7 separate regions of the Homo sapiens genome follow, and regions 1, 2, 3, 5, 6 and 7 are each reported to be linked to region 4. The links are microRNA targets in miRTarBase. Many come from high-throughput screens and were not tested one by one. Region 4 holds a microRNA gene; each other region holds the end of a gene's coding sequence. Distances are from middle to middle.
What was found. The annotated mature microRNA hsa-miR-320b reads AAAAGCUGGGUUGAGAGGGCAA and lies in region 4 at 3,072-3,093, opposite strand. An mRNA with a match to its seed (bases 2 to 7 or 8) in the 3' UTR can be bound and repressed. Matches are read on the target gene's strand: a 7mer-m8 pairs with bases 2 to 8, a 7mer-A1 pairs with bases 2 to 7 and ends in A, and an 8mer does both.

Region 1: miRTarBase lists RNF103 as a target of hsa-miR-320b. The part of its 3' UTR that is shown has no 7-base or 8-base seed match.
Region 2: the mRNA of BCL9L is a reported target of hsa-miR-320b. The part of its 3' UTR that is shown has no 7-base or 8-base seed match.
Region 3: miRTarBase lists BCL7B as a target of hsa-miR-320b. Seed matches in the 3' UTR shown: 7mer-m8 at 999-1,005.
Region 5: the mRNA of VPS13D is a reported target of hsa-miR-320b. Seed matches in the 3' UTR shown: 7mer-A1 at 2,203-2,209 and 7mer-m8 at 2,239-2,245.
Region 6: miRTarBase lists HOXC11 as a target of hsa-miR-320b. The part of its 3' UTR that is shown has no 7-base or 8-base seed match.
Region 7: the mRNA of TASOR2 is a reported target of hsa-miR-320b. Seed matches in the 3' UTR shown: 7mer-m8 at 3,338-3,344.

The regions. Positions count from the first base shown.
Region 1 is chr2:86,600,439-86,604,438 of GRCh38, forward strand. It overlaps RNF103 (ring finger protein 103), which reads right to left. Exons shown (of 4, transcript NM_005667.4): 4 at 2,960-4,000. The coding sequence ends at 3,405. The region is part of intron 3 of RNF103-CHMP3 (RNF103-CHMP3 readthrough); the gene reads right to left. The region is part of intron 5 of CHMP3-AS1 (CHMP3 and RNF103 antisense RNA 1); the gene reads left to right. Among named protein-coding and RNA genes, the nearest start is that of RNF103, 21 kb to the right of the region's middle.
Region 2 is chr11:118,894,747-118,899,086 of GRCh38, forward strand. It overlaps BCL9L (BCL9 like), which reads right to left. Exons shown (of 10, transcript NM_001378213.1): 10 at 1,390-4,340. The coding sequence ends at 3,669. It overlaps CXCR5 (C-X-C motif chemokine receptor 5), which reads left to right. Exons shown (of 2, transcript NM_001716.5): 2 at 1-3,041. Among named protein-coding and RNA genes, the nearest start is that of CXCR5, 13 kb to the left of the region's middle. RefSeq lists enhancers at 1,018-1,776, 3,396-3,903.
Region 3 is chr7:73,533,300-73,537,639 of GRCh38, reverse strand. It overlaps BCL7B (BAF chromatin remodeling complex subunit BCL7B), which reads left to right. Exons shown (of 6, transcript NM_001707.4): 6 at 250-1,284. The coding sequence ends at 342. Among named protein-coding and RNA genes, the nearest start is that of BAZ1B, 13 kb to the right of the region's middle.
Region 4 is chr1:224,253,978-224,258,317 of GRCh38, forward strand. It overlaps MIR320B2 (microRNA 320b-2), which reads right to left and starts at 3,133; the gene lies at 3,063-3,133. The region is part of intron 18 of NVL (nuclear VCP like); the gene reads right to left. RefSeq lists an enhancer at 733-1,658 and a silencer at 2,770-3,064.
Region 5 is chr1:12,508,389-12,512,728 of GRCh38, forward strand. VPS13D (vacuolar protein sorting 13 homolog D) reads left to right here. Exons shown (of 70, transcript NM_015378.4): 70 at 505-3,659. The coding sequence ends at 636. Among named protein-coding and RNA genes, the nearest start is that of SNORA59A, 3.3 kb to the left of the region's middle. RefSeq lists an enhancer at 21-522.
Region 6 is chr12:53,974,608-53,978,947 of GRCh38, reverse strand. It overlaps HOXC11 (homeobox C11), which reads right to left. Exons shown (of 2, transcript NM_014212.4): 2 at 1,305-3,767. The coding sequence ends at 3,535. HOTAIR (HOX transcript antisense RNA) reads left to right here and starts at 3,994. Exons shown (of 7, transcript NR_186241.1): 1 at 3,994-4,050. RefSeq lists enhancers at 1-32, 3,522-3,671, 4,002-4,340.
Region 7 is chr10:5,762,579-5,766,918 of GRCh38, reverse strand. TASOR2 (transcription activation suppressor family member 2) reads right to left here. Exons shown (of 22, transcript NM_001321783.2): 21 at 4,273-4,340; 22 at 3,179-3,890. The coding sequence ends at 3,887. It overlaps GDI2 (GDP dissociation inhibitor 2), which reads left to right. Exons shown (of 11, transcript NM_001494.4): 9 at 281-425; 10 at 624-678; 11 at 767-1,696. The coding sequence ends at 913. Among named protein-coding and RNA genes, the nearest start is that of GDI2, 49 kb to the left of the region's middle.

The sequences.
Region 1 (4,000 bases), not on the chromosome of region 4:
GTCAAAAGGCAAGGAAGTGCTTCGAGATTAAAGGGACTGTCAATAGGACATAAGAGCCGGCTTAGAGAGGCTCCCTCTAGCCTAATCTGGGATGATTTGAAAATCAAGAAGAATCATAAATTCTAACACATAGGGTATTTTAAAAAATCTGTGAATCAAAAGTGTGAAAAATGGAAAGTTCTTGTTCACAAAAAAGTCAATAAATGTAGAATGAATGATGGTATTAGAAAACCCCCATCTTAGCCAGGCACGGTGGCTCACGCCTGTAATCCCAGCAATTTAAGAAGCTAAGGCGGGTGGATCACTTGAGCCCAGGAGTTTGAGACCAGCCTGGCAACATGGCGAAACCCTGTCTCTAACAAAAAAATACAAAAATTAGCTGGATGTGGTGCCACACACCTGTGGTCCCAGCTACCCAGGAAGTTGAGGCTGCAGTGAGCTGTGATCATGCCACTGCAACTGCAGCCTGTGTGACCAAGACCCTGTCTTGAAATAAATAAATGAAATTCCCATGTTGCAACTCTTCTTTAATAACTGATTGATGCAAAGAATCAACAGATGTTAAAGCCATTGGGTTAGATTGTTGAGGAATAGGATATTTGCATAGTCTCAACAGGTTCCTTCTTAAAGTGAAAAAGTATCTTAGAATGGAAAGAAAAGGCAAATATCACTTTAACCAAATGTCACCAATAATAGGACAAACTGACATGTGCCTTCTGATGCCATACAAATGGAAAGTACATACCTTCCAGACAATATCCTTTAAATCTAATCATGAAAGAAACAGACAAATCTAGAATGTGGAGCATTTTATAAGTCAACCATCCTGTAGTCTCCAAAAATGTTAGTACCAAAAAAAGGCAACTAGCAAGGCATTATGGCTTATGCCTGTAACCCCAGCTACTCAGGAGGATTGCTTGAGCCTAGGAGTTCAAGACCAGCCTAGGCAACAAAGCAAGACTCCAACTCTCAAAAACAACAACAACAAAACAAACAAAAAACAAAACAAAACAAAACTTAGCACTGTGGCTTGAGCCTGTAGTTCCAGCTACTTGGGAGGCTGAGGCAGGAGGATCGCTTGAGCCCAGGAGTTTGAGGCTGCAGTGAGCTATGATGATGCCACTGCACTCTAGCATGGGCAACAGAGCAAGACCTTGTCTCAATAAAATTAAAATAAAATAAAATAATAAAATAAAATAAAATAAATAAAATAAAATAAAAAAATAAAATAAAAATAAGTAAAACAAATTGGCCAGGTGTGGTGACACATGCCTGTAATCCCATCACTTTGGGAGGCCGAGGTGGGCAGATCACCTGAGGCTGGGAGTTCGAGACAAGCCTGGCCTACATAGTGAAACCGCATCTCTACTAAAAATACAAAAATTAGCCAGGCATGGTGGTGCATGTCCGTAATCCCAGCTACTCGGGAGGCTGAGGCAGGGGAATCGCCTGAACCAGGGAGGCGGAGGTTGCAGTGAGCTGAGACCATGCCACTGCACTCCAGCCTGGGCGACAGAGAGAGGCTCCATCTCAAAAAAAGAAAAAAATGATAAAAGAAAAATAAAACAGAACACCAGAGAGAAATCAAAGAAGAGTCTACTTTTTTAAAAAGGGGGCAGGGGCCTAGCGCCGTGGCTCACGCCTGTAATCCCAGCACTTTGGGAGCCGGGGCGGGCAGATTACCTGAGGTCGGGAGTTTGAGACCAGCCTGGCCAACATGGAGAAACCCCGTCTCTACTAAAAGTACAAACATTAGCTGGGCGTGGTGGCGGGTGCCTGTTATCCCAGCTACTCGGGAAGCTGAGGCAGGAGAATCGCTTGGACCCGGGAGGTGGAGGCTGCGGTGAGCTGAGATCGCGCCATTGCACTCCAGCCGGGGCAACAAGAGGGAAACTGTCTTTAAAAAAAAAGAAAAGAAAAGAAAAAGAAAAAAAAGGGGTGGCGGCAGGGGGAATTACTCTAGAGGAAAGGATGAAAAGGAGGAGACTAAACTTAATGTATCGACTATGTCTGAGTTCACAATAAAAATAAAACAAAAACATTTAGATATAAAGGATATTTCAGGAGCAATTGGGGAGTATCGATTTTATATACATTAGCTATTATTGAGTCAATGTTAAATTTCTTGGGTGTCATAATGGTATAGTGGTTACATAAAAGAATGTCCTTGTTCTTAGATATGTGGTGATATATTTAGCAGTCAGTCATCATGATGACTGAAATTTATTTTCAAAAGGATCAGCGGCCGGGTGCGGTGGCTCATGCTTGTAATCCCAGCACTTTAGGAGGCCGAGGCGGGCGGATCACGAGGTCGGGAGATCGGGACCGTCCTGGCTAACACGGTGAAACCCCGTCTCTACTGAAAATACAAAAAATTAGCCGGGCGTGGTGGTGGGCACCTGTAGACCCTGCTACTCCTGTGAACCCAGGAGGCGGAGCTTGCAGTGAGCCGAGATTGCACCACTGCACTACAGCCTGGGCGACCCAGTGAGACTCCATCTCAAAAAAAAAAAAAAAAAAAAAGAAATATACACATAAGAGATAGGAGATAAAACATATAACAAAATGTGAACACTTGGTGAATTAGATAAAAAGAAATGGATGTTCACTGTACTATGTTTACAGCTTTCTGTAGCTTTAAAAAATTTCAAAAGTCAGAAAAAACATAATTTATGTGTGGCTAATATGCTATAGTTGATTTTATTTAGATGAATGTGCTAAGTACTGATAAATTATTTAGTACTTTTTCAAAAGCCCACCATGAAACTCTTTCCCATCACAGCTAACCAAGCTAAAAGGTGAACTGTCACATCTAGCAAGTGCCAGCAACATTTTGTCTTCCTCCCCAACGTGAGTCAAGAATCATGTTTGATCTATCTGTGAAATTAACAAACCAGCAAAACACCTATATCATTCAGCCACCTTATCAAAAAAATTTAACATTGGAAAATCTGTAATCTTCTGGTTTTAAAATAATTTATTTCATAGGTCTGTTTTAATTTCATGTCTCACAGCATACATTATTTAACCAAGAGGTGCTGGACAGAGATTGTAAAAAGGGAGGAAACATTTAGGATAAGAAACCGGCTCAATTCCATTAGAATTTGATCCTATCTTGTAAAGTCTTGCTAGGATAAATTTCTATAATACTTCTTTTGTGCTTACAAAAAAACATTAACTTCTGAATTTCCAATGTTGTAAATAAAAAAATTTTACAATTAGGTATGCATTCAATTAACACACAAGGCAACCAAATAAATTCTGTCATCAACATTAGCATAATGTGTATTTCCCGTCACTGCACTAACATTAAACTAAACTTCAAACCACAAAAACATTGTGACTAACATTAAAAAGGCAAGCTGTAAGATACTCAAAGCTTATAAAGGACAAATTGCACATGGTTAAGATGGGACATCATTTGACAAGGGCTGGTGTTGTGCATATGGCTGCTTTTTTTTATAAGAAGGCCACCGGCAAACAGGGCAACAATGTCGGCCCCCAGCCAACCACATCACAATGCAATTCTGATGAAACACATGACCACAAGGCAACCCCATTAGCAAACATCCATTTTCAAAATTCTCTAGGCAAACAACACATTCAGTACAGTGCAGCATATCAGCAGGCCAAGTTAACCAATCAGGTTCCATATCTTCATTAGTGTTATATGATCCATATGACCTCCCCTTCCTTTCACATGGGCTGGTCTGACAATATTTATTGGCACATGAACAAGCCTCAGCATCACAGTGACTTGCTGTTCCTGGAGAATTGTGAAGTACGCTTTGCTTATCTTCAAATACTTCCTTCTCACTACTCAAAGTGTCTGTGTTCTCACTTTCCGAGTCATTTTCAGTATCTTGAGACCCCTCCGACATTTCCTCTTCAGACTGGACTCCAAGACATTTAAATCGCCACATTGGTAAGTTTTTAATATAATCAGTTGGTATCAGAGGGTGAAGCCAAAGGTCAGGGAAAGCTAAGCGCTCCAAGAATA
Region 2 (4,340 bases), not on the chromosome of region 4:
AAGGGCTCACCGTGGCTAAGAGTGTCCTAGGAGTATCCTCATTTGGGGTAGCTAGAGGAACCAACCCCCATTTCTAGAACATCCCTGCCAGCTCTTCTGCCGGCCCTGGGGCTAGGCTGGAGCCCAGGGAGCGGAAAGCAGCTCAAAGGCACAGTGAAGGCTGTCCTTACCCATCTGCACCCCCCTGGGCTGAGAGAACCTCACGCACCTCCCATCCTAATCATCCAATGCTCAAGAAACAACTTCTACTTCTGCCCTTGCCAACGGAGAGCGCCTGCCCCTCCCAGAACACACTCCATCAGCTTAGGGGCTGCTGACCTCCACAGCTTCCCCTCTCTCCTCCTGCCCACCTGTCAAACAAAGCCAGAAGCTGAGCACCAGGGGATGAGTGGAGGTTAAGGCTGAGGAAAGGCCAGCTGGCAGCAGAGTGTGGCCTTCGGACAACTCAGTCCCTAAAAACACAGACATTCTGCCAGGCCCCCAAGCCTGCAGTCATCTTGACCAAGCAGGAAGCTCAGACTGGTTGAGTTCAGGTAGCTGCCCCTGGCTCTGACCGAAACAGCGCTGGGTCCACCCCATGTCACCGGATCCTGGGTGGTCTGCAGGCAGGGCTGACTCTAGGTGCCCTTGGAGGCCAGCCAGTGACCTGAGGAAGCGTGAAGGCCGAGAAGCAAGAAAGAAACCCGACAGAGGGAAGAAAAGAGCTTTCTTCCCGAACCCCAAGGAGGGAGATGGATCAATCAAACCCGGCGGTCCCCTCCGCCAGGCGAGATGGGGTGGGGTGGAGAACTCCTAGGGTGGCTGGGTCCAGGGGATGGGAGGTTGTGGGCATTGATGGGGAAGGAGGCTGGCTTGTCCCCTCCTCACTCCCTTCCCATAAGCTATAGACCCGAGGAAACTCAGAGTCGGAACGGAGAAAGGTGGACTGGAAGGGGCCCGTGGGAGTCATCTCAACCATCCCCTCCGTGGCATCACCTTAGGCAGGGAAGTGTAAGAAACACACTGAGGCAGGGAAGTCCCCAGGCCCCAGGAAGCCGTGCCCTGCCCCCGTGAGGATGTCACTCAGATGGAACCGCAGGAAGCTGCTCCGTGCTTGTTTGCTCACCTGGGGTGTGGGAGGCCCGTCCGGCAGTTCTGGGTGCTCCCTACCACCTCCCCAGCCTTTGATCAGGTGGGGAGTCAGGGACCCCTGCCCTTGTCCCACTCAAGCCAAGCAGCCAAGCTCCTTGGGAGGCCCCACTGGGGAAATAACAGCTGTGGCTCACGTGAGAGTGTCTTCACGGCAGGACAACGAGGAAGCCCTAAGACGTCCCTTTTTTCTCTGAGTATCTCCTCGCAAGCTGGGTAATCGATGGGGGAGTCTGAAGCAGATGCAAAGAGGCAAGAGGCTGGATTTTGAATTTTCTTTTTAATAAAAAGGCACCTATAAAACAGGTCAATACAGTACAGGCAGCACAGAGACCCCCGGAACAAGCCTAAAAATTGTTTCAAAATAAAAACCAAGAAGATGTCTTCACATATTGTATTTATATATTTATATTTATATATATATTTATATAATGGTACAAAATGGCTGGGGGTGTGGCCATGGATGGAGGGAAGAGTAGGCTGGCCTGTGGCGTGGGTGGGAGGAGAGGGGACGGAGAGGGCACTCGGCCCGCTGCAATCTGACCCCTCTCTCCTCAGGGCAGGAAACACAGAGTCAGACAGTTTGGGGGGGTCTTGGGCCAGGGGTGGAGGGCTCAAGGGCACAGGGCCCAGGCTGAGGCAGGGCGGGCAAAGCGCCTGGCAGGATGAAGGGCAAGTGGCCCCCCAAACACAGAGGCCCTGGCCATGGACCCTGGGAGGTGACCGGGGTGAGTCAGGGGCCTGTTGTCAGCCCCAGAGGAAGCGCTGGACCTGGCCGATGGTGGGCCGAGAGGACAGCACCAGGCTGGGAGAAGTGGGGCGAGTTCCCTTTGTATTACAGCTGCCAGTGCAAGACCAGGCCCTCCAGGCCAGGAAGGCTAGGGACGGGTCCTGGTAGAAGACACCCTGTCTAGAATGGCCCTTGGTCCTGGAGGTGGGGCGCAAAAGGCCTCAGCCAGGGAACTGCCCTGCCACCTCCCGAGGCAGGAAAGGAAGTGAGAAAAGGAGAAGTTTTTTTACTCCTGGGGCCAAAGTAGGGGGACAAACACCCAGTCGTATATGGCTTCAGCTCTGACCAAAGGCGGATAGGGAGCTCTCCTGGGTAGGAGCAGGGAGCCAAGGGGGAGGCAGTGGCTGTGCCTGGGTGGGCACAGACAGATCTGGTACATGGCCCTGAGCCCTGGGCAGAGGGACAACCTTGCCGGTGAGTGGGCAGGCAGAGAGGAGGCGGCAGGATGCTGTTTCCCCGATTCCATCCTCAGGGAGTGGAGACTGGAGGGGAGGTGCACTGACTCAGATGAACTGTTCTCCCCCTTCTTTGATAAGAAGTAGGTGGCAGCAGCCTCTGGAAAAGTCAGGGCCCTGGAGGTTACCTGGCCCAGGGCTACTACAGCCACAGGCCCCAGTGGCACCATGCCACCCCTTCCATGGCTCCACTCAAGGGGGCCACACAGCCACCGCCTCTTCCTCCTTTCCTTCATCCCAAACTGGGACAAAAGACTTCAAGTTCTGGCTAAGATGTAGCAGCAGCGGATGCCCGGGCATCCAAAGTGGAAAGCCAGGGCCCCGTGTCACCGGTGTGGGCAAACACACATGCACGTGCACACATGTTCTCCCTGAATCACTCAGCAGCAGACAGGCTGCCGCCCTGGGGGTCTCAGCCCTGCTAGGGCTCACCAGGTGGAAGCCTAGGTGGTCTGACCTCAGTTTAGGAGTGGGTCATTTACGTCATCTTACCATTTGGGGACGAGACAGGAATGGTATCCCTTAGGGACCCAGAGACACTGCAAACAGTGGGTGGCCATGTAGGGCTGCATGTCCCTGGGTCCAGGGGAATGGAGGGAGCAATAACTTGAAGAAGGGGGGAAGGGTTTCTTTTATCCTTTTTTTTTTGTGTGACTTCTATCAAAACACAGAAATACAGCACACGCACAAACCAGCACAAAAGCGCAGCGCTCTATTTACAGCTCCGGCTGGCACCTGCCCACCTGGCCAGCCGCCTGCAGGGAGGGGTGGGAGAGGGGTCAGCCACATCAGCAGGGAAAGGATACGAAGCAGGTAAAGACAGAAGGAAAATGGGCGGGTGCGGAGAAACCAAGAGGGAGGTGGAGCTCCAGCAATGCGGACACGAGGAGACAGGAGCAGAAGGGGCTGGGGGAGACCTGACCTGTCCTTCCTCTCTCCCCCCAGATTCCCATCCAGGACTCCAAAAGCATAGCTGAAGGGGGTGTGGCGGGTGCAGGGATGCACGGAAAGAGGTAAAATAGAGAGGCTCCATAGGAATTGGGAGGAGTGGGGGAGGGGCAGTCCTGGTGGCCGAAATGGAACCAACCCCAATGCAAAATCCCCCACCCCACACTGCCACTTCCCCCTAAGCTGCCAGCACATCTGGTTTCCACAAATGCCACTCCCTACACAAGCCCCCTCCCACCCCCTCCACCCCACCCCGCGACCCAGGCCATCCCAACATTGAGGGGAAGAACTTTGTTAAGGTTATCGTATTTGCAACATTGCCCCGGCTCCAGCCCTGGCAGCGACTTCTAGAAGGGCAGGTTGGCCATGCCGCCTGGTGCCGGGAGGTAGCCCATCTGGCTGTCCAGGGACACACTGCGCTGCCGAAGGGGGTGGGACACCATGAGGTTCTGCTGGGGCGGGGGGCCCATGAGGGAGCCCTGCGGGGAGAGCATGTGGGGCGGCTGGCTGTAGACCTCGCCCCCCACGCCCCGCTGCTTCATCAGCATGAAATTCTGCTGGGTCATGAGGCCTTGTGGAGGGGACATGACCCCCTGGTGCAGGCCATGGGGCACCATCCCCTGCTGTGGGGGCACGCCTGTCCTGCCCAGCAAGGACATCTGTCCAGGGTGGCACATGGACATGTTGAGCCCCCGCTGGACGCCCTGCTGGCCTGGGAGGTTGGGAGGCCGAGAGGGAGTCTGCTCCGCCATCATGTTCTGCAGGTTCATGAGATGCAGATTAGGGGGCTGAGCCTTGGGGGGCTGGTTCTCGCTCTTGGGGAAGTACTGGAGGGTGCTGCTTGGCTTCTCAGAGGGGATGATCCTCGACAAGTCGAACTCGGGGATCCCCGTTGGGGTGGGCCGGATCACCTCGCTCAGCTCGGGGTCGTTCAGCACTGATGCCACCCCAGGGAGCACACCCGGTGGGTATGCGTCGCCCATGCGCCCAGCCATGGCTTTGCCCATCAGGTGCTGCTG
Region 3 (4,340 bases), not on the chromosome of region 4:
CTGGGATTATAGGTGTGAGCCACTGTGCCCGGCCAGGCTTCCCAGTTTCTAAGTCAAAAAACCAGGAAAGACTGTGGATGTGGGGTTGGATCTGCAGCGCCGGAAATGAGTCCCAGGGTTGTAGGCAGGGGAGGATGTTTGATCATCTGCTGGAAGGAGCAGAGTGGACATCCCATTATAATTCGGGTGGGTGGGAAGGTTCTGGTTGGGAGGGGTGGCCCTGGCATTCCATGCTCTGCCTGCTCCTAGGTCGTTGAGGAAGAGGAAGACTCAGGTGCCCCGCCCCTGAAGCGCTTCTGTGTGGACCAACCCACAGTGCCGCAGACGGCGTCAGAAAGCTAGCACCATCCCGGCCCTCCGCCTCCTGGCCCTGCCTCTATTTATTGCATTCTGGTTCTGGCCGCGCCGCGTTGCTGGGGTAAGGGCAAGCACTGGGGTCAAGAGCCTGCACACATGAGCCTTCCGGGCTGGAAGGCTGGCGTAGGACTTGGGGCTGTAGCATCATCTTCCTGACCCTGGCACCTGTGTCTACTTGCTCCCGAGAAGAGGAGCGCTCATGTCTTTTTTGCACCCCAAGTTGGCTGGAGCATCGGCCACCCCAAGATTCATCTGTGACCTCCAGGCAGCAGTCTCTGCTCCAGAATCTCTGGACGGAGCTGCTGGCAGCTTCTGCGAGAAGAGAGAGATGTGGAAGGCACCTTCTAGAAGAGAGCGTGCCTCAGGTTACTTGAACTTGAACGGAGACTGTAGACTCCCGGACTTTCCCCTAGGACTGGGGGCCCTGTAGGCTGCTGTTGGAGGACTGGGTAGAGACATTGGAGGGAAGGGAAGGGCTTTTCTCCACACAAGGGCAGAGAGTCCGTCTAGATTTCTTGCTGTCCTGCCAGCTCTGCCCATGCCTGAGGTGGTCCTACCTCTCACGGGCACCCTAGCTGCTGACAGCCCTTTGTGGCCGCCGTCCCCATCCCCTGCCCTCAGCACACACATCTGCACACACGCAGCTTTGTTCTCACCTCTACCTGTCATTCCAGCATCCCTGCCTCTTGTCACAAACTGCCCCAGCAAGAATTTGAGGTTCTGACAACAGTACCCATCCCCCACAGTACCCCTTCAGCTCAGTTTCTAGAAAGCTCCCTTTTCTTTGAAATCTGCATGTTGAATTGAACTTTGTGATTTTATTTTTTGTTTCAAAAAAGTTTAAGAAAATGGAAATGGGCAACAGTGAGTGAAGACATATTTTAGCACTGAATAGAATATTTTTAAAATTAAACTATTTGAAATATGTCCTGTTGGTATCTGAGTGCTTCCTTCTTGAAGGTTGCGGGCCGGGGTGGGGGTGGTGGCTGAGTGCTTGTGGGGTCACTGTGGGCTGGGCCTGCCCATCCTTTCACTCCCACAGTGTGGACTTCATGACAGTGATTTCTAGCCTCCCTTTGAAGCTGTCACGTAGTTCAAATTATGCTTCTCGCTGGGCGTGGTGGCTCATACTTCTTATCCCAGCACTTTGGGAGGCCGAGGCAGGAGGATCACTTGAGGCTAGGAGTTTGAGACCAGCCTGGGCAACACAGCAAGACCCTATCTCTATCTAAACAATATTTTTAAATTAAAACATAAAAACCAGGCCAGGCGCAGTGGCTCCCGCCTGTAATCTTAGCACTTTGGGAGGCTGAGGTGGGTGGATCATCTGAGCTCAGGAGTTCAAGACCAGCCTGACCAGCAAAATGAGACCCCATCTCTACTAAAAATACAAAAATTAGCCAGGCATGGTGGCAGGCGCCTTTAGTCCCAGCTACTTGGGAGGCTGAGACGAGCATTGCTCGAACCTGGGAGGTGGAGGTTGCAGTGAGCCAAGACTGCGCCACTGCGCTCCAGCCTGGGTGACGGAGCGAGACTCCATCTCAAAAAACAAAACCAAATTCCATCCCTGTGTACACCAAATGCAGCCCATGGATGTGTTTTCCACAGGTCCATGTAGTTCGGAGGGATTCATGAGTTCTTTTTTTCCCCCCTTGTGGTAAAATACACGTAACATAAAAGGTTTTTGTTTGTTTGTTTTTTGAGACAGAGTCTCACTCTGTCACCCAGCAGGCTGGAGTACAGTGGTGTGTTCTCAACTCACTGCAACCTCTGCCTCCCAAGTAGCTGGGATTACAGACGTGCACCACCACGTCTGACTAATTTTTGTAATTTTAGTAGAGGTGGGGTTTCACCATGTTGGCCAGGCTGGTTTCGAACCCCTTAGGCTCCCAAAGTGCTGGGATTACATGTGTGAGCCACTGCACCTGGCCAAGAGTTACTTTTGTCACCATTGTGAAGTGTGCATTTCAGTGGTACTGAGTACTGAGTACATTCACAGTGCTGGGCAGTCCTCACAGTCCAGCTCCGAACTTTTTTATTATCCCAAATGGAAACCTCATGTCCAGTTAGCATCATTCACCATTTCTTCCCCTCCCCTCGGGCCCTGGCAGCCACAGATCTGTTTATTTCCCGGAGTGATTCCCCTCATTTCTCACAGGGGCTCCAGGTGTCATGGATGAGACTATAATACAAGTTCTACTGTTCTATGTTTTGTTTTTGTTTTTTTTGAGACGGAGTCTCGCTCTGTCACCCAGGCTGGCAGTGGCGGGATCTCGGCTCACCGCAAGCTCCGCCACCCGGGTTCACACCATTCTCCTGCCTCAGCCTCCCGAGTAGCTGGGACTACAGGCGCCTGCCACCACGCCCAGCTAATTTTTTGTATTTTTAGTAGAGACGGGGTTTCACTGTGTTAGCCAGGATGGTCTCGATCTCCTGACCTCATGATCTGCCCGCCTCGGCCTCCCAAAGTGCTGTGATTACAGGCATGAGCCACCGCACCCGGCCCCTGTTTTATCTTTTCTTACAAAATATAAATAGGGCTGGGGCTGGGCACGGTGGCTCACGCCTGTAATCCCAGCTACTCGGGAGGCTGAGGCAAGAGAATGGTGTGAACCCAGGAGGCGGAGCTTGCGGTGAGCTGAGATCACGCCACTGCACTCCAGCCTGGGCGACAGAGCAAGACTCCATCTCAAAATATATATATATATATAAATATTTTTATATATATAGGGCTGGGCACAGTGGCCTGTAATCCCAGCACTTTGGAAGGCTAAGGCAGGAAGATTGCCTGAGCCTGGGAGTTAAGACGAGCCTGGGCAACATGGCAAGACCCTGTCTCATTAACAAATACAAAAATGTAGGCCGGGCGTGGTGGCTCACACCTGTAATCCCAGCACTTTGGGAGGCTGAGGCGGGCGGATCACGAGGTCATGAGTTCGAGATCAGCCTGACCAGCGTGGTGAAACCCCCATCTCTACCAAAGATACAAAAAATTAGCCGGGCGTTCTGGCACATGTCTGTAATCCCAGCTACTTGGGAGGCTGAGGTACAAGAATCTCTTGAACCTGGGAGGCGGAGGTTGCAGGGAGCCCGATTGCGCCATTACACTCCAGCCCGGGCGACAGGGTGAAACTCTGTCTCTAAAAAAATAAGTAATAATCTTTTAAAAATGTAACAGCCAGGTACAGTGGCTCATGCCTGTAATCCCAGCACTTTGGGAAGATCGCTTGAGCCCAGAAGTTCGAGACCAGCCTGGGCAACATGGTGAAACCTCATCTCTAAAACAAAAACAAAAATTAGCTGGGCATGTTGGTGCATGCCTGTAGCATCCCCTGCTCGACGGCTGAGGTGGGCGGATCTCTTGAGCCCAGGAGGTCAAGGCTGTCGTGAGCCGTGATCATGACACTGCACTCTAGCCTGGGCGACAGAGGGAGTCTCAAAAAAAGAGACATATAAAATCAAATTGTCAAATGAATTTTACAGATAATGTGATTGTATGTGGTACACAAAATACGTATTTTTTTTCTGAGACAGAGTGTTCTCTGTCACCCAGGCTAGAGTGCAGTGGCGTGATCTTGGCTCACTGCAACCTCCGCCTCCCAGGTTCAAGCAATTCTCCTGCCTCGGCCTCCTGAGTAGCCGGGATAACAGGTGCCTGCCACTGTGCCTGGCTAATTTTTGTATTTTTAGTACAGACGACGTTTCACCACCTTAGCCAGGCTGTTCTCGAACTCCCAATCTCGTTATCCACCCACCTCAGCCTCCCAAAGTGCTGGGATTACAGTCGTGAGCCACTGCGCTTGACCCTTTTTTTTTTTGTAAAGACAAGGTCTCACTATGTTGCCCAGGCTGGACCCACCTCGGTTTCCATTTCCCAAAGTGCTGGGATTACAGCCGTGAGCCATCATGCCTGGCCAACATAACTGTTTTAATGTGTTTAAACAAAGGAAAGTATAATGGGCTGGGTGCAGTAGCTCATGCCT
Region 4 (4,340 bases):
ACACCTCCTATGGTGAAGTAACTGTACAAATCTTTTGGCCATTTTTATGTTTAAAGTTGATTAAATAATTTTGTAAACTGACAAAGAAAAATGGTATATATTTAGGTTGTACAACATGTTTTTTTTTGTTTTGAGATGGAGTCTCACTCTGTCGCCCAGGCTGGAGTGCAGTGGCATGATCTCAGCTCACTGCAACCTCTGCCTCCCGGGTTCAAGTTCATTCTCCTGCCTCAGCCTCCTGAGCAGCTGGGATTACAGGTGACCACCACCATGCCCGGCTAACTTTTGTATTTTTAGTAGAGACGGGGTTTCACCATATTGGTCAGGCTGGTCTCGAACTCCTGACCTCGTGATCCACCTGCCTTGGCCTCCCAAAGTGCTAGGATTACAGGCATGAGCCACAGTGCCTGGCATTTTTTTTTTTTTTTTTTTGAGATGGAGTTTTGCTCTTGTTGCCCAGGCTGGAGTGCAATGGCGCAATCTCAGCTCACCGCAACCTCTACCTCCTGGATTCAAGTGATTCTCCTGCGTCAGCCTCCCAAGTAGCTGGGATTACAGGCATGCACCACCATGCCCGGCTAATTTGTTTTTTTTGTTTTTTTTTTTTTTGTATTTTTAGTAGAAACAGGGTTTCTCCATGTTGGTCAGGCTGGTCTCGAACTCCCAACCTCAGGTGATCTGCTCATCTCGGCCTCCCAAAGTGGTGGGATTACAGGCGTGAGCCACTGTGCCTGGCCAACATGTGTTTTTAAAATGTGTATACATTGTGGAATGGCCAAGTTGAGACAACTGACACAGGCATTACCTCATATTCTTATTACTTTTTTTGTGGTAGATCACTTAAAATCTACTTTCTTGGCAATTTTCAAGTACCTTTTGGCTACTTTTAAAATGGTGTAGTTTTTTTTTTTTTTTTTTGAGACGGAGTCTCTGTCGCCAGGCTGGAGTACAGTGGCATGACCTTGGCTCACTGAAACCTCAACTCCCAGGTTCAAGCGATTCTCCTGCCTCAGCCTCCCAAGTAGCTGGGATTCCAGGCATGCACCACCACACTCAGCTACTTTTTGTATTTTTGGTAGAGACGGGATTTCACCATGTTGGCTAGGATGGTCTCGATCTCCTGACCTCATGATCCGTCTGCCTCGGTTCCCAAAGTGCTGGGATTACAGGCATGAGCCAATGTGCCTGGCCCAAAATGGTGTAGGTTTTTTTTTTTTTTTTTTTTTTCCTGAGACAGGGTCTCGCTCTGCCGTCCAGGCTGGAATGCAGTGGTGCGATCTTGGCTCACGGCAAGCTCCACCTCCCTGGTTCTCGCCATTCTCCTGCCTCAGCCTCCAGAGTAGCTGGGACTTACAGGTGCCCACCACCATGCTCAGCTAATTTCTTTTGTATTTTTAGTAGAGACGGAGTTTCACCATGTTAGCCAGGTTGGTCTCGATCTCCTGACCTTGTGATCCGCCCACCTGGGCCTCCCAAAGTGCTGGGATTACAGGCGTGAGCCACCGCGCCTGGCCTAAAATGGTGTAGTTTTTAATCCTTTATCAGATATATGCTTTGCAAATATTTTCTCCTAGTCTGTGGTTTATCTTTATATTCTCTTATTTGCATTTTTGTAAGAGACTGGGTCTCACTACACTGCCCAGGCTGGCCTCGAAGTGCTGAGCTCAAAGGATCCTCCCACCTCAGTCTCCTGAGTAGCTGGGTTTACAGGCGTGTACCACTGTACCTGGCTTATTGGCACTTTTGAAGAGCAGTTCAGTTTATCTATTTGCTCTTTTATGGTTTACGCTTTTAATATCATATAGGAAATCTTTGCTTAATTCAAGGTAGAAAAAAATTTCTCCAGTGTTTTCTTCCAAGAGTTTTATAATGTTGTTTTCAATGGTCTTTGATTCATTTTGAGTTATTTTTTGTATGTGGTAAAAGGTATGAATTAAGGTTCAATTTTTCTTTTTGCATATGGATATTCAGTTGCTCCAGTACCATTGTTGAAAAGACTATACATTCTCCACTGCATTGCCTTTGTGCTTTTTAAATACATCAACTATCTAGATATGCATAGGAATATTTCTGGATTTTTTTTCTGTTCCTTTTATTTATCTGTCTCAGCTCTATGCCAATTACCATGCCGTTGAAACATCTTTTAATTTAAACATATAAATACATGCCAGGCATGGTGGCTCATGCCTGTAATCCCAGCACTTTGGGAGGCTGAGGCGGGTGGATCACTTGAGGTCAGGAGTTCGAGACCAGCTTGGCCAACATGGTGAAACTCCATAACTACTGAAAATAAAAAAATTAGCTGAGCATGGTGTTGCATGCCTGCAATCCCAGCTACTCGGGAGGCTAAGGCAGGAGAATCGCTTGAACCTGGGAAGCGGAGGTTGCAGTGAGCCAAGATCGTGCTACTGCACTCCAGCCTGGGCAACAGGGTGAGGCTCCATCTAAAAAAAAAAAAAAAAAAAAAAAACCCACAGAAAACTCCCCACAAAACACATCTTAAAGCCAGTTCTACATGCCCCAAGGTAAAGGGGAATACTGATGATAATTATAAAGCATTCTTAGTTTGGGAGTCCTATAATCACTTAACATCTCTGACAAATATCACACTTAATATTATGCAGTTTATTATTTTAATAAGTTATTTACAGTAAAAGGCATTCTGGACACTTTATATAAATTTTAGTATTAGATGACTTAAACTACACTTCACTAAAGGCTCCTGCAAGATTCTATGTATTACATCATTAGAAATGAGATGCTAATCTCTTCCTAGCTCTTCCCTAAACAGGCCCCTACCATTGTCTTTCCCGTCTTAGTTAATGTGAACTCATTCTCCCGGTTTTTCAGGCCCAGACCTTGGAGCCATGCTTGATTCCACTTTCCCACATCCTTAACTACTCCATTAGCAAATCAGGTCAACCCTATGACACAATATATTCAGATTCCTTCTACATCCACAGCTATCACCCGGCTCAAACCACCACCACCTTGCACCTGCATTATTCTTACAGCTTCCCAACTGGTTCCCTATCTAATTATGTCAGAGACAGAATTCTTTTTTTTTCCTTTTGCCCTCTCAACCCAGCTTTTCCCAACTTTGGGAAATCTGGGAAGAGAAAGCCTAAGAGACAGAATTCTTAGGTAGAAGACAAAAAATAACAATTCTGATATTTACAATAAAAATGGCACTAACAATCCCAGCACTTTAAAGAGAAAGTGCATTCACTCACAAATGAGATGGTTGCCTGAAAAAGAACCCTCCTTTCATCTGTTGATAAGCAGCACCTACTGTTCTTTATAAAGCACCTACCTCCCCTCAAAAAAGCTATTACAGCTTGCCATGGGTAAAAAACATTAATTAAAAAAGAAAAAAAAAGTTAAAATTGAGAGGTAACAGTAGCAACTTTTAACTTTAGGAAAACATTATTTTGTTATAAATGGACCCTCAATTTTTAACAAAGGTAACAAGACAATTCAATGGGGGACTAATTAATCTTTGCAACAAAGGTGCTAGGACAAGTGGTTTTTTGTTTGTCTGTTTGTTTGTTTGTTTGTTTCTTTTTTTGGAGACAGGGTCTCACTCTGTAGCGCAGGCTGGAGTGCAGTGGTGTATCATAGCTCACTGCAGCCTTGATCTCCGGGACTCAAGCAATCCTCCCGCCATAGCCTCCCAAGTAGCTAAGACTACAGGCATGCACCACCATGCCCATTTAATTTTGTTTTGTTTTTGTGTATTTTTTGTAGAGATGAGGTCTCACTATGTTGCCCAGGCTGGTCTTGAACTCCTGAGCTCAAACAATCCTCCCATGTTGGCCTCCCAAAGTGCTGGGATTACAGGCATGAGTCACTGCACTGGGCCCGACAAGGGATATTGACACTCAAAAGAATCAATTTGCACACTTTCCTCACAACACGCAACAAATTAACTCAAAATGGATCAAAGACCTAAATGTAAGAGCTAAAATTTTATGAGAAGAAAATGCAGGAGTTAATTTTAGTGACCTTCGGTTAGGCAATGATTTTTACACCATTGATAACACCATCAAAATTGCAAGCGGTAAAAGACAAACACATAAATTGGAATTTATCAAAATTAAAAACTTGTGTTTCAAATGACATCAAAAAAGTGAATAGACAACCCACAGATTGGTGAAAACATATGTAGATCACATATCTGATTTTAGATTTGTATCTAGAACAAAGAACTCTTACTACTCAATGACAAGGCAAATAACCTAATTGAAAAATGACCAGACATATCTCCAAAGAAGACATACAAATGACCAACAAGCACAATAAAAGATGCTCAACACTATCAGTTATCAGGGAAATGCAAA
Region 5 (4,340 bases), 210 Mb from region 4:
TGGCTGTACAGTCCTGGGGAATGTTTAAAAAGACCGGCTGGGCGCAGTGGCTCATGCCTGTAATCCCAGCACTTTGGGAGGCCGAGGCGGGCGGATCACGAGGTCAGGAGTTCGAGACCATCCTGGCTAACACGGTGAAACCCCATCTCTACTTAAAAAAAAAAAAAAAAAAAAAAATCGTTAGCTGTGCACATGCCTGTAGTCCCAGCTACTCGGGAGGCTGAGGCAGGAGAATCGCTTGAACCCGGGAGGCGGAGGTTGCAGTGAACCAAGATTGCGCCTAGGCGACAGAGACTCCGTCTCAAAAAAAAAAAAAAAATTGCAGGGACCCACCCCAGACTTGTGAGTGCGAGTGAAGCAGGAGCAGCCCTGGCCATCACTGTTTCTTTGACGTGTACATCCCATCCTGAGATGCAGCTGGGCTGGGAGCCGCCACCTGGGTGGATCTGATTCCTGGATTTCCCCATCCTGGGGACAGGTGACCCATCCTGTTCTCCTCCTTAGGTCCATGTGAAATCTGAGGTCCTTGCTGTCAAGTTGTCACAAGAAATAAACTACGCAAAGAGCCTCTACTATGAACAGCAGCTTATGTTAAGACTCAGCGAAAACCGAGAGCAGCTGGAGCTGGACTCCTGAAGCCCCGCTGCTGAGATGGGCGCTCCCGACACAGCGCAGACCCACCAGGAGGAAAGAGGCCCAGCTCTCAGCTGACGATGGAGGCAGAACCGGAGTCGGGTTTGGGGAAGTTGTCAAGGAATGAGGGAAAGTAAATCCTCATGAGGAAAAGTACAAATGGAAATCGTATTAATTTGTGAGGCAGGGAGTTATTTTAGATTATGGGAAATAATTTTTAAAGGTATTGGTTAAATAACGTTTAAAAACATGTACTGAGATGAATCTAATTTTTAGATTGCCCTGTATTTTGTTAACATGTATATATGTACAACAGTGTGTTTGTAAATATATAGGAACGTTTCTGAACAGGGTCTGTGCTATGTGTAAAGGTTTGTTAACTGTAAAGTAATATAAAGTTATATTGGATCTTCTATTGCACTAATTCTAGATGTCTAATTCAGGATACTGTCTATAGAAAGGCATTCTTAAAAGTTAAAGAATGTTACGTCTTAGTTTTGGAGACTAAAGTATTCCCAGTAAAGTGGGTTGAGGTGAGGGCTGTGGTCCTGAAAGGGACGCCTTTGACATCGTGGCTGTCCAGTTGGGCTGTGAGCTGTGGCACCCAGGACTGGCGCTGGCCCTTCAGAAGGATCTAGGAGAGGGGCTTGGGAGCCCACTTTTAATTTCTCACCCCCATTTTACAAAGAGTGCTTAGATTCTTACAAATTATGATGTAAGTTATCCATTTGGCTTTTTCCTAACTAGTCTTACCAAACTTAGGGGGAAACCTGTGCTCCATTACCACATGGGTGCAAGTCAGCATTGTAAGTTTTCTCAGGTTATTATTATTAGAGAGGTTGGAAACATTGGTAAACTCTGTTGATTGAGAAGGAAAAAAAAAGTCCCATTGAACTGTTGCAACAAATCAGAAATCCACATAAAAGTGCTCTCCTGCCTGGGCAGCAACAACCAAGAACAAAGCCCCGGGACTGTTTTCTTTTTAATAAAGCCACAGGCAGGCATCGTAGCTCCACAGCCCGAGGGGACACAGGATGGAAACCCCAGGATGAGAAGGGAGCAGGGAGAGTTCCAGAAAGGGGGATGAAATAGGAGTATTAAAAAGCTGCGTTGGTAAGTTTTTCATGGAACCAAGATTTGACAAAGGCATCTCTTATCCTTGGTTTTAAATTCCTGCTGGGAGCAAGGCCTGGTATGAGCGCCCTGGGTCTTGTTTTTGGTGTTTCGCTTTTCTGTAAGGATTAAGCAGATAGGGAGAAGGGAAAAGGGGCCTCACTTTAGAATGAATGAGTCACCTTGTGATTTTTAAATTTTTATTTTAATAAAGCTAATCAATTTCTACAACCTTGTCACATGTAGCTGAGTCTGGGATGACTCAGTGGATCAGTGGATGCGTGGAAGGTTTTGGTGTTTATAACTCATGACCCAAATCCTTCCAAGACACAAATGAAGCTAATCTTCTTCCCCTCCCTTTCCTCTCCCACTTCCCCTCTGTGTCTGTGTCTGTGTGTGTGTGTGTGTGTGTGTGTGTGTGCGCGCGCGCGCGTGCATGCAGAGAGGAAGGAAGGGAGCTTTAGCACAAGTAGCTACATAGTGTTCAAGGATCAGCTTTCTTGAACTCCGAGGCTTGGTTGCCTTTGCTGAACTCCAAGTTAGTGGATTGCAGAATGGAAACTTGGCTTTTGCGGCACTGGGTGAGTTTTAGTTTGTGTGTGTCTTGCTGGGGGGTGGTGATGATTGTCTCAGCACTCACGCACTGCACAAGATGGCAGCAGGATACAGCACTGCACAAGATGGCAGCTCCTCTGCAGCTTCCTCCTCAGCCTCCCTCCTTGCACCCCCACAGGTTTGGCTTGTGGTTTTTGTCATCAGTAACCTACTGCCTGAGATCATGATCTCTTAAAAGATGAGACTCTCGGAAGGGTTGATTGTATGCGTCAGTGAGCCTTCTATCACCTTCTGGAACAAAGTCACTTGAAATCTCTTGATGAGATTAAGGAGTTTAGTGTTACTAAGAAAATCTGCTTTGGGCCGCAGCAGTGCTGGGTGTTCTCAGACCTGACTGAGGAAGTTAGCTGCGGGCTGCCCTGTGGGCTGGTGCTTCAGGAGGAATCCAGAGAAGTGTTCAGATGCCCCCCTTGGGCTCCTTTCTAATTTTAATCAGCTCTTTAAATAGCTGCCCATCTCCTGTGATTGCACAACCAAGCACTTTGACATTTGCACCTTAGGAGAGGCAGATGTTAAAATGGAATCCAAAGACCACCTAGGGCGGGGCTGGGTGGGAGATGGGAGGGCCAACTGCGAGCTGCTCCACTTCTCAGCTCTCCCCTGCCCTGCAGCCCTGGGCCAGACAAGGCCAGAAGGTTTCAGGGGCATTTGACATCCCCTCCTGGTTCTCACCAGGAAAACATCCAAAGCTTTGGAGGAAACAGGCCCTGCCCCTGGCTCCTTAAATGCCCCGTCTCTTTGTAAACTGATATTCAGCCAGCAATGCCTAAGACTTTGTTAAGATCATTTCTACTGCTTTTCTTTCTGCTTCAAACACACAGTTCGTCTCTGAGGAAAGTAAAATAAATGGAATAAGAGTAAATTGGGTAAGGAGATATCCAAAGCTACCCAGTCCCTTGACCCAGCACAGTTGGCCGACCCGTGTCACTCCCTGGCTGTCGCTGCTTCTCTGTGCTCACTGAAGGGTGAGCCAGGCCAGTGCTTCCCCAGCCCCTGGGCCTGGTCACTACACAGTGGAAAACAGACAAGCGGCCCCTTCCCCAAATCCCAAGAGTGTCTTGCTGCTTGGTGGGTGCTCATCGCAATGTTCTGAAGGCTCCAGGGCCACTTTGTTTGTAAGTATGATCTGGGCCTCAAAATACCATAGTAGCTGCTTGATAAAATTCTAAAAATATCTGGTTCTCTATTATGTAAACACTATTACAGTCACCAGTGTGTGAAGACTCTTGAGTCTGGTTCTCATATCAGAGTCATCATTTTTCTTCCTGTGGAATAAAATGCCTTGTGGACTTCCCAAACTTGTTCTTTTGTTTTCTTCTGGTCTCTTGGTGATCCACAGCTTCTAGAGCTATCACCAGTGACAAATACCAAACATAGTGTGATGTTCACAATAAAATGTGGCCTCTGCCCCCAGGCCTGGGGAAGCACCCCCACACCTTAACCAGTCTCAGCCTCCCAAGAGTAAGTAGTAGTCTCCGCGCTACACTGGCTGCTGATCAGTCCATTCTGAGGTTCCTGGTCCAAGCCCCAGCAGGACAGACGTCACACTTAGGGTTTAGGCAGCTGAAGAAGAAACAGCAAAGGAGGCCGGGCATGGTGACTCATGCCTGTAATCCCAGCACTTTGGGAGGCTGAGGCAGGCGGATCACAAGGTCAGGAGATTGAGACCATCCTGGCTAACATGATGAAACCTCATCTCTAACCCCGACTATATCGCCCCTCTCTATTCCATCCACTCCACCTCAAAATTAATAACCTTGTGTGTCGCCCAAATTTTCACCACGTTATATAATTATGTGTATAACTAAAACTACAAAAAATTAGCTGGGCATGGTGGTGGGCGCCTGTAGTCCCAGCTACTTGGGAGGCTGAGGCAGGAGAATCACTTGAACCCGGGAGGCGGAGGTTGCAGTGAGCCGAGATCACACCGCTGCACTCCAGCCTGGCACAACAGCCTGGCAACTCTGTCTCAACAACAA
Region 6 (4,340 bases), not on the chromosome of region 4:
CCCCTTCTGGTTGAGAACTGGCTCTAGGTATTCCCAACTCTGTTCACCTTTCAGACACCTGGTTTGCACCTTTTGCTCCCCCAGAACAGGGCTCCCCAATCTTTCCATCTGGGACAACTAGAGCCAGGGAGTTTTCTCTCAGAGGTGCTTGGCAGGGGTTTCGAGTCTTCTTACAAGGGGCCCTTGCATCGCCATTCCTCAGCCACCTAAGAGTCTAAGTGACAAAGAAACCCCAAACTCAAGGCTACTCCTAAACCCATTTCTCATTTCGAGTGCCCTTGATTCCTCCTGCACCCCAAAGCCCATGGTGGAAGGGGGAGGGGCCCAGAGTGCTCTCTCAGCCCACACCACTTAATACCCTTGTAAACTCCCACGTGCACTATAAACTTGGATTTTTACAACCAGCATTCCTCCTTAGCTCCGGGAAACTTTGAACTCGGCCTCAGGTTTATTTACTGGGGCGGGGGGGTGGGGTGGGCGCGGCGGGGAGGAAAGGGGCTGGGGTGCTGGGAGCTGAGAAAGGCTGGAGAAAAGAGGAAAAATGTGGGGCAACGGGCTGAGGAGGTGGGGGTCTGAGTGTGTTGGGAGAGCCAAGACCCTCCACTACAGGTTTGTTTACTATTTAGGGCGGAAGTGGTTTCTAATACAGGCCAGACTGGGTCGTTAAGGTCGAAATGAAACTGGGTTTAGAAACGTGAGGGGGTGCTTTATGGCAGCGTCTAGACGAGGATCTTTTGTTCCCGGGCAGTGCTGCGGCTAGAGGGGATTACCCCAAGAGGTTGAGCCCAGAGTGCCCCTGACCTGCAAGGGGGGTTGGACACCTTGGGAGACGGAAGGTGGGTTTGTTTGGGGGCCAAAAAACCCTTTTTCCTCCTTTTTAGAGGGTCACCAAGGACTGGCAGATTCCTGGCTTGGGTCACAGAAGCCTTTGTTTTTCTTTCATGATGACCTTCTCCTCTCATCCACCAGAACTCTCTTTTGGAGCTGAGGACATTTCTGGGCTCCACATTGCAGAGAAAGTGTTACCTGCGGGTTTTAAATATTTTTCTCCAAAATCAGGCATTTGGAGGCTAATATTTTGCTTTATAAATAGGTTCACCTTATAGAGTTTCCTCTATCCTAATTTCACAGGAAACATCACCAGCAGGCTAATATTTCCTAATGTGGCTAGTGGATAAACATCATACCTAGAGAAGTGTCACACACACATACACACACAAAAATGTACAGAGGCCCCTCAGTTGCATTCCTGCCCACACTCAACAAACACTGCCAATGGTTACACACCACAGAGACACAAGCTCTAGATGTGTATGTGGTCAGGTTTACTCCATGCAACAGACAAAAGCATATAAATAATATTCCTTCTTATGTGCACCCATAGGCACACCGAGTTAAATAAAACGTTTGTGTGTGGGCACATGAGGGAATTGTGGGCTGCATATACACCCTAGTTTGCAAATCTTGTCTCACGACCCGACCCACGTTTACAAATTAGAAATTTAGATACCTAAGCTGCAGGGATTCCTACCATCAAAAATGACAGAACCTAGATTTGATAGTCATGATGCTTTTTCCTTTCATCCAACAGAATTGTATTGACAAAAATATTTTCTTTGAATTATACAAAGACAGAAAGAGGAGGGAAAGATGAGATGAGTTGTCCTGAACCTCTGCCCCCAAATAACGAATTTGAAACAGAGACCAACGAAGTGCCCTCACTGAAAGCACTGCAAGGGCCATGATTATCTTTATACAGAAGAAACATGCAGCAAATATAGATGGGTATGGTGACTGTCCCCGCAGGTCATCTCCATCCCCAGTGCCAACCCCTACAAAACAAACCTCTGGGGCTTTCTACTGTGGGACACCCAATGTATAAACATCAGGGTGGCCCCAGTATAGGCGTCTTGTTGTGTCTGGAAGAGCCTGGCCATTTGTGCCAGAGGGAAAGCAGCCAGGCCCCACCTTCCCACCCCCAGGAGCTGTGGAGAGGAGAGGGAGGGGGCTGGTTTCTCCTTCTGTCCCCTCCTTCCTTAAAAACAGTGTATAAAAATTCCAATACAGATTTCTCCTAGAGAAAAAAAAAAAAAAGCCCTAACCTCCACACTACACATTTAACTGCGACAGACGGAGACATCTGGCAGAAGGGCGGTGGAGCCAAAAAAATTCCTATAAATTTAAATTCGATGATGGTTACAATTAACTCCACAACAAACGTGTACTTAAACAGAAAGCCGTTGCTGGGCGTTTGGACACAGCTCGAGCTGCACGTGAGAAAGGAGAGCTTCAGAGTAGCTATGGAATGTCCTCAGCTTGAGAATGTGAGGAGACTACGGCCATACTCTTGGCCCTGCCAGCGGAGAGGAGCTCCAGGCCGGCTAGCACCGGCCTATCTCACCTCTGCCTGCCTGTCCTCACCCGCTGGGCTCTGCCTGCCTGCCTCCTCCTCCTCCGCCGCTGCCATGGGAGCATGGAGGATTTTAAGAGGAGAGGGGTTAATAAAAGGGTCAAATAAAATCATAATATTGAACAGAATGAAATTTATCTTTATTTGCCACCAAAAAAATTTCACAGCAATCCCTCTGGGAAGGGAGCAGGGTGGGGAGTGCACATGTACACACGCACTCACGCAGAGGAGTAGAGATGCGTGATTTGAATCTCACTGGGGGCGTCCCCCCCTTTCCCTCCAGGTGGAAAGAAACGCTTGGGAAATTTATTTACAAAAATCCAGGCCCCAGCACGGGGGAGGTGCCCAATCCCATCTCCCTACTGCCTCCACCACCCCAATCTTCAATTTTCTTAAAAAAAAAAAAAAAAGAGGTAACGACTGCATAGACTATAGCTATAAATCCATGAAGTGGGGCACTGCTTGGAAAAAGATGTGGAAACCTCAATGCACCGATTAAGAAATTTCAAAGGAAGGTTCTACACATTCAGGGGGAGAACAACTAGGCTCGGGCGGGGCCTTGGCGAAGACGGAGGTAGGACACGGACTTTGCACACCTAACACCAGGTTGAAGGTACAGAAATTTCACAGCAAGGCAGGATCACATTTAGCTGCAAGGTGGGGCGGGGTAGAGGGGGGAGCTCGAGAAGTTTCCGCTGGCAGACATGCTGTCTTAGCGGATCTTTTCACATGGGCAAGGGAAGGCTTTTAGTTCGAGGATTGTTCGGCTCAGGCGCTCACTACTGTCGCCCCTCCCCCACCTAATCCGAGCAGCAAGACATTGTCGCCGAGGTGTGTTTTCTTTTAAATCAAAGTCTTGGCCTCGGCGCCAACGGTGTTCACTCGCCGTGCATCAGACACTTCCCTTCACCCCCTTTCCAGGCCCGGTCCCTGTCCCACAGCGAGAGTCAGATAGAGGGTCCAGGAGGTTCCGGAATGGAGTGCCGGCCACAGCGGTGGGGGCCAGCCCTGGCCACAGTCCAGTTTTCCACCGGCGGAAAGAAGACGAGTTAGAAAATAAAAAATAAAAATAAAATAAAATAATTTTCCCCTCCCCCCGCCCCCAAAAGGGCCCGGTCTGCAGGTTACAGCAGAGGATTTCCCGAGAAATACTGCAGCCGGTCTCTGCTCAGTTTCTTTTCTTTCATCCTTCTGTTCTGAAACCAAATTTTCACTTGTCGGTCCGTCAGGTTCAGCATCCGGGACAGCTGCAGCCGCTTCTCTTTGTTGATATACACGTTGAAGAAAAACTCTCGCTCCAGTTCCCGGATCTGGAATTTCGAATAAGGGCAGCGCTTCTTGCGGGTGCGGGGGGCGTCTGGAGGGAGGGGAGGGGGCAAGTGCGAGGAGAGGGGGGAGAGAGACACGTGAGACCCGGGCGACCCCAGCCCGCTGAGCGCTCAGCGGCCCTTCTCCTAGCCCACCGCGGGCAGCCCTCCCGCCAGGCGGCTGGCTCTCCTGCAGCCGCAGCACCCGGGCAAGCCTCGACCCCCTGCCAGGTCTAGCGGGTCCCCACCCCCCCGCCACTGCGCCACCCCGTCCCCAGTTCTCAGGCGAGAGCCGCGGCTGACAGGGTCTGGGACAGAAGGAAAGCCCTCCAGGTACACGTGCGTCCCCTCGGGCCCCCTGTCTGCTCCCCCTCCGCCCTCGGGCCCTTCCTGGGCCGCCCTCCTAGTGGTTCGGAAAGCCCAACCCCTCCCCCAGAAATCTGGGGGGAAAGCTGAGAACAGGCGCGAAGCAGTGAAATCTGGCGAGAGCAGTCGGGAGGCGGGGAGGAAGCCGGCCAGCAGGCACCGAGACACCAGAGAGCCGCTTCCGGGGCCCTGGCGCCCCGGGAAGCCCGCGGGGCAGCGCCTTCCACACCGCAGTTCTAGGCAAGCACTAAGGCCGC
Region 7 (4,340 bases), not on the chromosome of region 4:
TTAGTTAGGTATGACAGAGCTGTTAAGAGATCTCATTCCAAACTTCAGCAGTTCGCTACCACTTCAATTCTTAATCTCTAGTAGGTTAAAAGAAATTCCTATTGTTAAATATCTGTGTACTTTACATCCAACTCTGTCACCATTTAGAACTTAAGTGTAGAAGATCTTGCCTATTGAGAGTAATTTTAACTCACACCTCATGACATATGGGTGATACCTGAGTATGTTGGGTCCCAGATGGAGACACTTGAGGCAGTGAGCTGGTATCATTTGTTTCTAGATATCTACGTCTGCATGATCTCCTTTGCGCACAATGTAGCAGCACAAGGGAAGTACATTGCTATAGTTAGTACAACTGTGGAAACCAAGGAGCCTGAGAAGGAAATCAGACCAGCTTTGGAGCTCTTGGAACCAATTGAACAGAAGTGAGTTGTGTTCTTTTATATCTGCCGAGATGCAAACTGAGGCCTTTGATTGTGGCTCCATGGTGGGACGAATGTGAGGGCAAGGCAGGTAGCTGCTGGCTGCTCTGTGGGATTCATCTGTACCTCTCAGTTGACCTCAGGCAGAGCCATGGTCAGGTGTGGGACCAGCTCACCTGACTGAATTCTCTCTCCCTCCAGATTTGTTAGCATCAGTGACCTCCTGGTACCAAAAGACTTGGGAACAGAAAGCCAGGTGAGTATGGAAGTGTGAAAGGATATGGGCAGGTTTCACTGGAAGACATCCCTCCATGGTCTTAAGTCTTCGTAATTTTTGTTTTCAGATCTTTATTTCCCGCACATATGATGCCACCACTCATTTTGAGACAACGTGTGATGACATTAAAAACATCTATAAGAGGATGACAGGATCAGAGTTTGACTTTGAGGAAATGAAGCGCAAGAAGAATGACATCTATGGGGAAGACTAACAGCAGTACATGTTATTATGTAATTAGGACACATTTAAAATTTGGCAAATAATGCATATAATGAAATCAATATTGTAAGGCCTGCTTTTGTAATGAAAATGGAGAGAATGAAGAGCGCTGTGCCAGTAAATACTCCCCTTCACCTTTCTAATTATTAACTTGTTTTCATGGAGTGGCTATTCAGCATTGGCAGTTACCACATTCTGTTCAATTTAACCAAACTGGCTTTTTTTTTTTCTAGTGAAGTTAAACAAACATTGGGATACCGACACAGACAACTTGAGACAGTTTTTTTAATCTTTTAATCAGTGTAGCTATGTGCTGCTGCTGCTCAAGAGCTGGATCCATACAGGTTGTGTGTCATCTGTCCTCTTGAGGTTCAGGAGATTCTAAATTGAATATTCCACGGTTTGGGACAGCATCCGGAAGTTTTCCCTATGACTTTATATTTTGTATTATGTCAAATGTTATGGCAGGGCCCAAATAGCATAGCCACAAGTTTGGTTTATGTGGGCATAAAATTCTAACCAAACCCCAGACATAGGGAGTCATTTGGAGAAAGCCTGTATGTGGTGTTTTAACCTAATAAAGTTGATGAGAGAGAAGGGGAGAGGAAGCGAACATAAAGCGGGTCAAGTGTAGTGCATCTTTTGTATCTCAGGCGTGGCTTCTTCAGTGGACCAAGCTGCAATGCAGTATTGACTTGACAGAGCCTCTACTTCTGTCTCAAAATGGCTCCAAATGATTTCTGTACTGCAAAATAAAGCCAAATTCTGGAAACTACTGCCCGGTGTTGGTTTGTGTGTCCTGATTGCAAGGGTCACAGCTGCCGTGCTTCCTTTGGTAGCACTGGAGTCAATGCCAGTCAGAATGCTCAGCAGCGGAAAGCGTGGGTGTCTTCTGATCTGGAAGGATCACAGCAGGTCCTGTCGTCTGGCTTCCCTGTGAGTAGACCTCGAGTTTTATTCTTGACACAGTACCATTACTAGACCTATCATCTTTGTGCAGAAAAAATAGTGTTTAATGATTTTGCTTGTAGCAGCAGTTATAAGGGAGTAAGTGAACTGTCAGGTAGAGTAGGTGCTTTAGTAAATAATTTTTGTGTAGTTGAAATGATAAAGTGTTTACATATAAGGCCCTTTCCCCTGACAGTGATGAGCCTCACGGCAGATGCTGTTGTTTACCACAGATAAACACTGACTCTTCAGAGTATGAAGGAGACAGACTAAGGTAGATGATGTGTTAAAGGAACTAGGGTGGTGATTTAGATTGTTATTCATATTGCCAAAATGATGGAGCTTCTCGACTTCAGTTGATGTTTTGGGCTGGATCATTCTCTGTTGATAGGGTTGATTGTAGCAGCATCCCTGGCCTCCACACACTAGATGGCAACAGCACCATCTTGGAATGACAACCAAAAATGTCTCCAGATGTTGAGAACCACTGCTTTACCTGTATGATAAAATTATCTGAAGTCCCAGCAAGCCTTTTTCTCTTCCCATGCAAAGGCCCAAGCTGGGTTAGTAATAAGTGAAAAAAGAAAAACCACGCATCTTCATATTCTTCATTCAACGTATTTACTGAATACCTTGTGTGCCAGGCCAGTGGAGACAAAGATGATAATGGTAGTTACTGGGATAACTCAGTTTGGTGAACACATGATGTGGTTTGGTTATTAGTAGAGTTACAGAAAAGGTAGCATGGAAACTGAGATGGCCTCGTGGGTGTTGGAAGGCTTTTCAGCAAGGGGAGGTGAATGTTATTAGGTCCAACCTGAAAGGTGCATATTTCAGGCAGATAGATAGGTGTTTGGCATCTTATAACTGCTCACTTTCCTTTTCCTTAGTAATCTGAAAGTAATTCACTGTACTGAATAGTTAATGGTTCCCTTAATAGACTCTTGTCCTTGGAAAAATAAAATGAAATGACTGGGGTTCTATTAGTAACTGAAAAATTGTCAACAATTAAAACTCTAAAACCTACTCATGAGAAAATAAAGCTCTTTTGTTTAGGAATAATAAAAGCCGACTTAATGACTTCTGAAAGAAGTAAGTGTCCCTGTAAAGGCCAGGTGAAACTGCCATTCTTTAACCTGTTACTCGGTGTACTTGACTGCGGAAAGAACCCAGAAACAGAACAGGCCAGGCCCAAAGGATAGAAGTGTAGGTTTCCTCTGGAAGCTTACTGTTCTGCTAAATGACCTAAAAATTGCTAGAACACTCCAGATAAGTCAATTTCTGCTATAAAAATCATTGCAGAAAGAGATTATTTTTAGTTGTCTTTATTTAAAAAATGAAACACATTAGTTACAAAAACCGTTGCTCCAAATAGATACCGTGTATCTTACAAATGTTTTTTGCTTGGTTTTGAGTGTTTACTGTAGAAATTTTCAATATCATAAATAAATGATTATTTCTTTCTCAGAAAGCTGATTTTTGTAGTGTAGTATTTACAAATACCGTAAGTGAAAAATGATAGTTTATAAATTTGTACCATTTAGGAAAAAATGTTTTATGTAGTGTTGTTTGTGTAACAGCAAATAAAACCATTTAAGATTATAGTTTTTACAAGGGTGGTAAAACCTTTAAAACAGAGCATAATGTGCATCGTATGCCTTTCTGACATTAGCATGCAAAAACAAAGCTATTTGTTAAAATAGACTTATTTTTGCTCCAACTAAGTAAACATGTAAAATTATTTTTAATAAGCTCAATAGCTTAGAAGGCATCTTGTTTAAAATGAAAATAATTTAAAACAATATCTAGCACTGCAACCCAAAGCTAACAGACAACTGCAATGCCACTGTGACATATTTCAGCAAAATATAAAAAATGAAAACTTTCCAAGTTGTAGAACATTGGTTTTTCAAATGTAAGACTGTTCACATGTGTATTCACATGTTCACAAGTTTTCCAAAGGGAAAATACTAATTTTTTATTGGCATCATCCATATCCAGGCAGGCTGTAGTTGAGTCACCTGAAGAAACACAAAATTGATAAAGAACTTCTTAAAATAATACGAACAAGAAATATTTTATAAGCGGGATGCTCTAATGGGGAAAACGCCTATGCATTCTAAGGTTACATTATGTTCTGTACTGACGATCCAAGTTAACAGCAAGTGAAAATGCACATTAGATAAAATAGGTAATTTTAGTAGATGGTTACTTCATTTAGTGATAATTTAGGAATTCCTATTTATGCCAAATAGCAATTCCACCCCTAAACAAACACTTTAAATTTATAGCATGAAGTATGTAAACAACAGTTTCCCAACTGTTTCCCTTAGACACAAATGTCAATATTTGCCATCAACAACTCCAACTCACATGGGAAAGTTACATAAAAAGTGTTCTTACCAATAGCTACTCCTAAATGGAGCTGCTATTTTTTCTATGTTTTCTATAAAGTTATTTACATCTGTAAC